Linked DNA regions of Homo sapiens: region 2 is linked to region 1. Evidence: fine-mapped expression QTL. A gene starts in region 1. The other region holds a variant in brackets. All regions are shown on one strand. Distances are between the middles of the regions.

Region 1 (5,364 bases):
CAGCACCATTGGCTTTGGGGACTATGTTGTTGGTGAGAACAAAACAGTCACATTATCTCAGGGTGGGGGTGCCCACTGGGATTTGGGGGATGGAGAGATGTCAGCTGAGGACAACTATTGAGGATAAGATAGCCCTTGGTCATTCAAGGGAGCCAAACCAATGATTTCTGGGACTACTGTGGATTCTAAGCAACATTCTCAGAAGTTTCTGGTCTAGGACCCATCACCACCCTGCAGAGACCTACCTCAACTGCTGTTCCTTGTTATGAGGAAGAGGGAGAGAGCATCCTGGCTGGTGAGGGTCCCTATGGAAACTGGAGGTGGCTATGCCCTGAGACCCCTGGCATTGATGCCATTCCCTTCCCTGGCAGGCACAGACCCCAGCAAGCATTATATCTCAGTGTATCGGAGCCTGGCAGCCATCTGGATCCTCCTGGGCCTGGCGTGGCTGGCGCTGATCCTCCCACTGGGCCCCCTGCTTCTGCACAGATGCTGCCAGCTCTGGCTGCTCAGTAGGGGCCTCGGCGTCAAGGATGGGGCAGCCTCTGACCCCAGTGGGCTCCCCAGGCCTCAGAAGATCCCCATCTCTGCATGAGGCCCCCGGGGGGGGCCCAGAAACCCCTTTCATCCTCCCCAGTCCCACCCTATCTGCTCTCTGGATTTCCAGCCCTGCTTTCTCCTCTCCCAACCCCCTCACTTCTCAGCCAGGGCTGGTCTCAGGAGCTCTCCCAAGAGAGAAAGGAGACAGGTATATCCAAGAAAGTAACAGAGAGGAGACGTGAGATAGGATTAAAGACATGTGTGGATGGGGAGGTGTACCCTTGTCCCAGAGCCCCTGCCACAGCCTTCCACCCAAAGGTAGTGGCCAGATCTCCACTGCCCTCCCCATGCCCCCTTCCAGGAGACCTTACACAAACAAAGGATGACTTTACTTTTGCCTCATTTGATATGTGCACAGTGCATTTGCCAAGCCCCTACTATGTGCCAGGTGCTGTGCCAGGGTCTGTGCCAGGGTCTGGGGATACAGCAGTGGAAGTGCCTGCCCTTGATGTGCCTTTAGTTGCTAGGCAAGCAAAGAGGCAGCCCCAACACAGTGCCCAAAATGCTATGATGGGAATAGCCCCAGGGTTGATGAGAGCCCATGGGAATGGCTGGCAGGGAGCATCAAAGAGAGGGGAGACCTGGGCAGAGACTTTGGAACAATCTTAGTGAAAAGAGGATCTCTGCCCTCAGGAAGCTCTCAGCCGAGGGGCAGGCGAGCTGCCTCTCAAAGCTCGCCAGCTCCCCTTGCCTAGAAGTCCAGGGCTGTCTGTGAACAAAGCTTAGGACCTCTTGGGTGTCCTACCCACTTTCCTGAACATGGCCTCCCCTGACCCTCACAGGCCACCCCCTTAACTTCATCACTCCCTCTGGGCTCCTGCCTTCTCAAGAGCCTTTCCAAACACCCCATGGGAAGCCAGAGAGCCAGCAGATCCCAGGATCCTTCCAGAAAGTGAGCTCCATGAACGTCTGGCCTCTCTCAGGAATGCATTCTCCAGGTCTGGCCTTTCCCCTGCCAGACTGCAACATCCCTGACCAGGAGAGATTTAGACCACTCCATCCCGGGGCCTGGAAATTTTGGCCTTTGCCTCTCCCATCATCCAACAGCAAGTGGGCTCCTATGTGGCTGGGTTCCTCTGCACAGGTCTGAGGCAAGGCTGTGGAGCCAAGGCGGCTCCAGGCAGGAGACCCAGGAGAGGCTCTACAGCAGCAAGAGGAGTCCAAGTCACACCCCAGGACTTCCCCATATCCAAGAAAGGACTGGGAAGCTGAGGACCCACGGACTCTTCACACAGCCTAGACGCTTCCTCCACTCCAGGTAGAGGGATTTCGGGGGCCTTCTCAGAAGCAAGGAGTGGACAAGCCTCTTGGTTAAGGCTCCTCTTACCTCCCAAGCTCATGGACAAGTGGCAATCAGCTGGGGTCCCTCTTTTGGGGTACAAAGGAAAGGACAGAGGTGTGGGAGACCCAAGGTGGTCTTGAGATTGACAGACAGCAAGTCCTTGGAGATAGCCCCCGAGTCCAAGAACTTAGGCAGGGGCCCCAAGACAATAAAGTTGGTCTCTACTATCTCCTACCTCTGAGTGCGGTTTCCAGAAGTCCCTCCCATTGTTCATTTCAGGAAATGTGAGGGGGCTCTGGGCCCCTTCCCTCAGCGCCTGCGGTCACCCAGCAGCTTCCTCCTTCTCCCTGGCCTAGGCCTAGCAGGTGGGCACCCCGCACACATTTGAGGCGGGGCCAGATGCCCACAGTTCAGAGCCTCTTTTTGTCCCGGGGATTGGATCCCAGGGCTGGGTGGGGCCAGGCTGTCCCATTCCCCAACACTCCTCCTCCCCGGCGAAACCGGGCACCAGCAGGCGTTTGCGAGAGGAGATACGAGCTGGACGCCTGGCCCTTCCCTCCCACCGGGTCCTAGTCCACCGCTCCCGGCGCCGGCTCCCCGCCTCTCCCGCTATGTACCGACCGCGAGCCCGGGCGGCTCCCGAGGGCAGGGTCCGGGGCTGCGCGGTGCCCAGCACCGTGCTCCTGCTGCTCGCCTACCTGGCTTACCTGGCGCTGGGCACCGGCGTGTTCTGGACGCTGGAGGGCCGCGCGGCGCAGGACTCCAGCCGCAGCTTCCAGCGCGACAAGTGGGAGCTGTTGCAGAACTTCACGTGTCTGGACCGCCCGGCGCTGGACTCGCTGATCCGGGTCAGGGGCGAGCGGCGTCGGCCTGGGCGCGGCGGGATGGGGTAGCGGGCCGCGGGGTGTACGGGCCGAGGGCGAGGGGGCCTATTCAGGCCCTGGTCAGGTGTTTCCTGTTCAGGGAAACGTCGGGAACGCAGACGCGGGCACAACGGGGGTGGGCGTTCCTGCGCGGGGACCAGAGGGTTGGGGGACCTCGGAGGAAAAGACCCTCGCCCTAGCGAGAGGACTGCGAGAAGCCGGGCTGAGTCCTACTTGGGGGCGAGAGGGCATGCTGGCCCGGTGAGGAGGCAGATGCCTGGGGACACATCCAAATTTGGGGGCGAGGACGACTACGGCAGGGGGCGCGCGCGTAACCGGCCCCGCCCGGCCTGACCCGGGAAAGGGCGCGTTTGAGCCTGCTTGGGGGTTGGTCGCACCCGCACCCGTGGCAAAGAGCTAAACGCCACACCTGGCCGCTTCCAGAGGGGGAACCCGGGCGCACGTTTGCGAACTGGGAGCTGGGACGGCAGGGGCGCCGGGTCTAAGGATGCGCAGGAGCGAGGGCGCGGCCGTAGGAGCCTGGGGGAAGGCGCGTTTGTCCCGGAGGGTGGGTGGATTGGGCCCGAGGCGTGCTGGTCGGGGCCACCCTCAACGCAGAGAGGGGGCTCGACGTGCGCAGACCCGGGTTCGAGAGGAGGGCGGACGCAGGGCCGCTCTCTGGCTGAACCCGCTTTACTCCGAGTCTTCGGACACAAGGACTGGGCGCGCCGCCGCCGCGCGGCTGCCCAGAAAGGCTGAAGGCAGGGTTCAGGGGAGGACTCAGAGGTAAATCTGAGCAGAGGCTCCTCAAGGGTGGGGCCTAGCAGGGCGGAGGAGGCCGGGGAGGGTTCTAGGGGTGGCGCATCTTAGGACTGAAGCGACGCCAGACTGGCAGCTGCTCGATTTGGCGGAGGCATTGATGTCCTGGGTCCTGGCTTGGTTCCCCACCCCTTCGTCCAAGAGCCCAGAGTCCAGACAGCTGCGCGCCAGCCCAGAATCCCCGTCTTGCAGTCCTGGTGGCTTATCCGTCCAGAGTCTCCAGTCCAAAGCCAATCCCCGGAAGGTGGCAGGGAACCGTGCCAGGGTGGGAAGGGACCCAGCGCGGAGCGGAAGTGGTGTTCTGAACCCTCGGACTAGGCCGATTCGGTGAGGTCAGGAGGTAGCCAGGGCCAGGCCTATCTCTACTAAGGACCTAAAGTGATTCCTCCAGCTCCCCACCTGCGGACTTCTGCAAATACAGCCCGACTGCTGGGTCCTGGTGCTGAGGCTGCCTGCCATTACCCTTGCAAAGGTGGTGAACTTCGACTACAAGCAGCCTGGGCCCAGGGAGATGGCTATGATGGTGATTATAATAACAGTAAATGCCTCTGTGCAGCACTTATCGTGTGCCAAGCACTGTTGCTGGTACTTTACCCGTATTCATTTGTCTCACCTCCCTCACAGGTGGGTACTGTTTTTATCATCCTGTTTCACCCTCACAGGTGGGTACTGTTTTTATCATCCTGTTTCAGAGGTGAAGAAACAGGCTCAGAGAGGTTACATACGAATGCATGGCTACATAGCCAGGAGCTGGAGCTGTTAACCAGCATAAATACTGCCTCAGTGTGGACCTGTGGATGTGGGTGCTTCCCAAGATTCCCAGCCAGGCTGTCATCTCTTTGGGCTTTCCCTTCAACTCCCTCCACCCCCACCTCACCCCCTTCCTCAACACTCCTGTGGCTTCAGCCAACTCCAGGAATAAGGATGTGGTATCCAGCCCAGATCTTTCTGAGCACCAGATGTGGACATGCAACTTCTGAAATTCCTCAAGGCCAAGAGCAAGTGGTCCTCCTCCTCCCAGCCCTGCTTCTCCACCTGTCCTAAATCTCGATTGTCTGCCCCATGTCCACACACCCTCACAATCCTCTGCAACATCTCCTTTACTGCCCATACTAAATAGGGCCAGAGGCCTGGGCTTCTGAATATCTCCTCTCTGTTCCTCCTGGACCACCTGTGCCAGGAGACAGGCCAGGGCCCGTCTATCACTCACTTCTGCAGGAGTCTCTCCCCTCTGGTCAACCCTTTCTATACTGCCAGCTGCCACAGAGCACACAAACCTGATCCTACTTCCCCTTTGCTCAGTGACCTTGGCTGATACCTGCGACTTCATCCCTGGCATGGCAAAGCCAAGCACAGCTTGGCCTCAATCACTTCTTACCAGTCTCCCTAATCTAGGTCCCAGGCAGTCTCACCTCCCACCTTCTGCACTGCTGTCCCATCTACCTAAACATCCTTCCACCAGAAGCAATCCTACCTGACCCTCAAAGGCCCAGCTAAAACATCCCATTCTCCATGAGGCCTCTGCTCCTACCCAAATGAGAATGAACATCCTTCTTCCCCAGAGTCCTACAACATTATATGCCTATATAATGCATATAGGCAATATAGCAACTGCTAACACCATGTGCCAGGTACTAAGTCTACACATAATACCTTATTTAACACAACAACTCTATGAAGTAGGTACTATTTGTATTACCATTATACAGGTAAGGAAACTGAGGCACAGAGAGAAGTTGAGCACCTTGCCCAGGATTGTGTAGCTGCACTTCCTCCTTAATGCCCAAAGTGACATTGACT
Region 2 (5,364 bases), 31 kb before region 1:
ACATGTCAGCAGCCTAGGTGAGCAGGCACAGCTGCATCTAATGAGCTGTTGGATCTGACTCCTCTCTCAGCATGAAGCTAGGTCCCAGGGGCAGGCAGTGTGGTCAGGGGTAGGCCAGCGTGTGTTCCTAGAATGCCACAGAGTCAAGCCCAGTTAGAAGGCATTGTGGCTGAGAGCACAGGTTCTGAAGCCTCAAAGAATCCTGAGTAGTTCCCGATTCTGCCACTTACCAGCTGGATAACTTTAGAATTTCTTTAATCTGTCTAAGCCTCAGTTTTCTCATGTATAAAATGGAGACGATGACATCTACCTCTTAGGTCATTGAGAGGATTAAATGGCATGATATTTGCAGAGCACTTTCACGAAGCCTGGCGTGTCTATCAATGACAGTTGTGGCCATCGTTTGTTGTTCAGCTGCTACAGCCAACAGATGCATGCTCTAACAATGAAAATTACTGTGTAGGCCGGGCACAGTGGCTCACGCCTGTAATCCCAGCACTTTGGGAGGCCAAGGTGGGTGGATCACCTGAGGTCAGGAGTTCAAGACCAGCCTGGCCAATATGGTGAAACCCCATCTCTACTAAAAATACAAAAAATTAGCCAGGTGTTGTGATGCATGCTTGTAATCCCAGCTACTTGGATGGCTGAGGCAGAAGGATTGCTCAAACCCAGGAAGCGGAGGTTGCAGTGAGCCAAGATCATGCCACTGCACTCCAGCTTGGGCAACAAGAGTGAAACTCCATCTCAAAAAAAAAGAAAAAAAGAAAATTACTGTGTAAACCATCCAAGACAGGACTCTTGGCTCTTGTCTTAGTCTGCTCAGGCTGCTATAACAAAATACTATAGACTGAGTGGCTCAAACAACAAACGTTTATTTTTCACAGTTCTGGAGGCTGGGAAGTCCAAGATCAAGGCACTGGCAGATTCGATGTCTGGTGAGGACCCCCTTCCCGGTTCATAGACAGCTGTCTTCTCGACGCATCCTCACATGGTGGAAGGGGCAAGGGAGCTCTCCAATGTCTCTTTTATAAGGACTCTAATCCCATTCATGAGAGTTCTACCTTCATGACTTAATCACCACCCAAAGGCCCCACCTCTACTACCATTACATTGGAGATTAGGTTCAACACATGACTTTTCAGGGACACAAACCTCCAGTCCGTAGCACAGCAGATTTAGTTCCTGCTGAGGGCTTCCTTCCTCGCTTGCTGGCACCTCCTTCTTATTGTGTGCTCACATAGGAGAGAAAGAGAGAGAGAGAGAGAGAGAGAGAGAGAGGGAGAGGGAGGGAGAGGGAGAGGGAGGGGGGGAGGGAGAGGGGGGGGAGAGAGAGAGAGAGAGAGAGAGAGAGAGAGAGAGAGCACTGTAGTTTCTCATCCTCCTCTTATACCTATAAGGACACTAATCCCAGTGCAGGGGCCCTACCCTCAGGACCTCATCTAAATCTATTCACCTCCCAAAGGCCCCACTGCCCAATGCCATCACACTGGGAATTAGGGTGTCCACATAGGGATTTTGAGAGGACACATTCAGTCCATAACAGCTCCTAGATATAAACCCTGAATTTCCTTCTATAAATTTGCCCCCATTCCTTTTGCTTTTGTTTGTTTGTGTTTTGCAGTGATGTGAATGCCAGGAAAATCCTGCCCTCGCCTTGCCCCAGTCCACACAGCCAGAAACAGAGCAGCACCAGCACCCCACTGGAAGACAGGTCTGTGGTCTTCTCCTGTTATGCCTGTGACAGCCCCTGCAGTGGGCGGAGTGGGCCTCCATCTCCAGTCTACTCCCCGAAAAAGCCCCTCGTCCAGTAGCCACACAGACAGAACCCAGGTCTGGCCTCTGCCCTGGTCCCCTGGGAATTCCCTGGAATCTCTCACACAGGCCAACTCAAAGCGGGGAGGTTTTCTCCCACAGTCACCAGGGCCCTGTGTTGGGCAGAGTTGTTTCATATCTTCTTGTGAATAGACGTACCTGGGGGCCAGAAAGGGAAAGAGCCAGCCCAGGGCAGCCCCACCACAGAGCAGAGCAGGGAGCTGACAAGCCTGGCCTGAAGACCCAGCAGCATTTGCTTCCAGGCTTACCAGAGTTGATCAGCACCATGGGCATTTGTATCCTCCGGCTAGAATGGCTGCTCAGCCTCTTTCACCAGCACAGCCTCTGCCCTGCCTGCCTGGACTCTGCTTTAGTGCTTCCGGCTGGCCTGCAGCGGGAAAGCCAACACCCAAACTACCTGCGGGAATGGCCAGCCCCTTGTTACATACCGTCCTTACTGCCTTCTAAGGAAGTGGCTACCACCTCCTGCTGTGCAGAGGCACAGGGGTGAGGATGGACGGAAAGTTGGCAAGGCCAGGCAAGTGTACTGCTCTGAGTTTGCTGAAGGGGAATGCTATATGGAGAAGCTGGATGGAAAAGGGGATGGGGGAGGGCACACACAGCCCTCCCTTTCTAAGGAGATTCCCACACAACACTTCTACTTACAAATCTCATTGGCCAGCACCTGGTCACCCGGCCACACATCGCAGCAAAGGAGTCTGGGAAA[G/T]GTAGTTTTTTTAGTTGTGGCAACTTAGCTAAATATGATTCTGTTTTTAAGGAGAGACAGGAGAACAGTAATCTCTGCCTTGAGGTCAACTAGCTAAGCCACGTGGGGAATGAGGGTGCTCTGAGGACACAGCACTGAATGATATGACATCTAAGCTGGGCACAGAAGTTGATGGGCCCCAGGTTAAGGGGTGCTGGTTTGGGTAAATCAGGGATGGGAGGACAAGAGTGGTGGTGGTAAGAGGATAGAGAAGGCAGCGAGAGAAAGCACAGCCGCCATGTGACGGGTGGTGGGGAGGGCAGTCCAGGGAGAGGAAGCATCAGAGCAAAGGCCCTGAGGCTGGAAGTGGCTTGGTAAATGCAAGTCACTGAAAGAAAAGGGGGCAGCTGGAGCCCCTGACCCGGGGTCATATCATACACAGCCTGGTAGGTCATGGGACAGAGTTTAAGTTTTATTCCATGAGTGGTGAAAAGCCACTAAAGGGTCTGTATTAGTCTGTTTTCACACTTCTGATAAAGACATACCTGAGACTGGGTAATTTATAAAGAAAAAGAGATTTAATGGACTCACAGTTCATGTCACTGGGGAGGCCTCACAATCATGGTGAAAGGCACGTCTTACATGGTGGCAGCCAAGACAGAATGAAAGCCAAGTGAGAGGGGAAACCTCGTATGAAAACATCAGATCTCATGAGACTTATTCACTACCACGAGAACAGTATGGAGGAAACCGTCCCCATGATTCAGTTATCTCCCACCTGGTCCCTCCCACAACACGTGGAAATTATGGGAGCTACAGTTCAAGATGAGATTTGGGTGAGGACACAGCCAAACCATATCAGGGTCTATGGCAGGGAATGACTTGACCCAATTTGCATGACAAGAGGCTTAGTGTGGCTGCCACACAGAGAAGGTAGGAGGGAGTGAGAAGCAGGCCAGCCGTGTCATGTAGCTTTCTGAGTGAGATCAGTCACCTAAAATGGAAAAGCATTTTGGAAATATAAGTGGTGAGTCCAGTTGTAAAGTGTAGTAAAATGTGACACGTGGTTGCCTCCAGCATCCCCAAGAGGCCAGTGTCGTCCATCCCTCTCACCGGAGACAGCCAGACGGACTCGGACATCATCGCCTTCATCAAGGCCAGACAGAGCATTCTGCAGAAGCAATGTAAGTGCACCTCCCTCGGTGGCTCCTCCTGGGCAGCAGGTCACCAACACTTGTGGGGAGCACACAGTGAGGTGGGAGGGGAGTAGGGAGTTTCCTGCATATTCCTGAAGCCACAGGACTGGCCTGCCTGTCAGTCACATGTGCCCAGCCTCTGATTCCTTCTCGAGAAAGCCTCAAGGGGCAGCATCAGAAACACCAAGACAGGCCCAAGTGGGTGGGCGGCCCAGGTGCTCCTGTCCCTCTTGGCAGAGCTTGCTCTCTGTCTCTTCCAGATCTTCAGCTCCTTTGTTCTCTGTTCCCAAAGTCAGCTGTCTCCTCTGCTCAGGCTTCTACAAACAGGAAGGGGCTGAGTGATGTTTTGGTAACTCGTTGAACCCCTGGCTTAAAGTCTCACTCCCCTATCAGAGTGTGGTTCTTGCCAAAGAGCTGTGAGTGTAAACACTGCTTGAAGGCCCAGGCCCGAGGACACCATAACAATCACAGAGGAAGTAAGAGTGGCGTGTCAGACAACAGGAAGAGAAGAAGGCTCTTCTTGGTCTGCATCACTGCCCCCTCCACCCCCAGCCCCGTCCTCTTGGCAGCTGCCCATCTCCCATCTGCTGTGGCTGGGCCTTTTCTCTTTCTGCCTTCCATCCCCAACACACCCACAGGGCAAGCCCCAGGGCCCCTTACCCCAGGCCTGCATTTTGTCTTAGCCTCCTCCCCATAACCCAAAGGCTACTAGGCAGGCTTAACATTGCCTTCACATTGCCAGAAAGGCGCCCCCACCGTGATGGTATGGGCTGGCAGATTCGATGTATAATGACTGATGCCTGCCCTGTGGCGCCTGCACTCAGCTTCTCCACCAGCCGTGTGCAGTTTGGGCAGGAAGAGGTTTGTGCATGGATGGAGCGCCGCAACTGAGAGCCGGCCTTGGTCCTGTACTCGCCTTGCTTGGCCGCCAGCCTGCTTATTTACTATCCTCTCTTCACCACCAGGACCAGCAGCCTCAGCAACACTGTCAGGTCCTTTCTTAAGCCTGAGACAGCCCCACCTCTGCTGTGATCTTGTCTCATTCTCAGTTTCCTTGTCTAAAAATAAAAAAAAATAAAAAAAAATAAAAAAAAATAAAAAACTGGATTCAGTGATCTCCAAGTCCCCATCTATGCCCCAAATACTCTGATGATAGGTATCAGGCACTGAACAGCAATGAACAGCCAATCAGTCAGCAAACACTGTATATGTTGGGTGCCTTCTTATGCCAGGCACTACTACTAGTGCTGGTGCTACAGCAGAGAACAAGACAGAACCCAGCACGTGAGAAACTGACATTCTAGGGGGAGGAAGGAGACAGACAATGAACACGTCGACAAATACGTAAGATTGTTTGAGGGGATAATAAGTGCTATGAAATAGCTAAACTATGTAATGTTGTAGACAGTAACTGGGAAGACTGCTTTTAGCTGGGTAGGTTGGGGAGGCCTTGCTGGAGAAGATAACTTTAAACTGACAGCTGCATCATGAGAATGGAGCAGCTACGCCGCGTTCTGGGAATGCACAGTCCTAGCAGACAGAGCGGAAAGCGAGAAGCCTGAAGGGGAAGCTTTGCTTGGCCACAGGGTGGGAAGGAAGCTAGAGTGGCTGGAGGGCAGGGAGCAAGAGCACAAGGGCCAAGTCACACCA

The links. PIP is the estimated chance that this variant, and not a neighbour inherited with it, causes the effect.
Region 2: its variant is fine-mapped to the expression of KCNK17 in spleen (GTEx, PIP above 0.99). The same link has a PIP of 0.9 or more in tibial nerve.

The regions. Positions count from the first base shown.
Region 1 is chr6:39,311,450-39,316,813 of GRCh38, reverse strand. It overlaps KCNK17 (potassium two pore domain channel subfamily K member 17), which reads left to right and starts at 2,395. Exons shown (of 5, transcript NM_031460.4): 1 at 2,395-2,730. The coding sequence starts at 2,494. It overlaps KCNK16 (potassium two pore domain channel subfamily K member 16), which reads left to right. Exons shown (of 5, transcript NM_001135106.2): 4 at 1-32; 5 at 372-643. The coding sequence ends at 595. It overlaps LOC105375047 (a long non-coding RNA gene), which reads right to left and starts at 2,858. Exons shown (of 3, transcript XR_926774.3): 1 at 2,590-2,858.
Region 2 is chr6:39,342,047-39,347,410 of GRCh38, reverse strand. It overlaps KIF6 (kinesin family member 6), which reads left to right. Exons shown (of 23, transcript NM_145027.6): 20 at 885-935; 21 at 1,622-1,711; 22 at 3,596-3,702. It overlaps LOC105375047 (a long non-coding RNA gene), which reads right to left. Exons shown (of 3, transcript XR_926774.3): 3 at 4,710-4,772. Among named protein-coding and RNA genes, the nearest start is that of KCNK16, 22 kb to the right of the region's middle. RefSeq lists enhancers at 2,071-2,572, 3,247-4,084, 4,067-4,116. The variant G/T (reference allele first, on the strand shown) is at 2,540.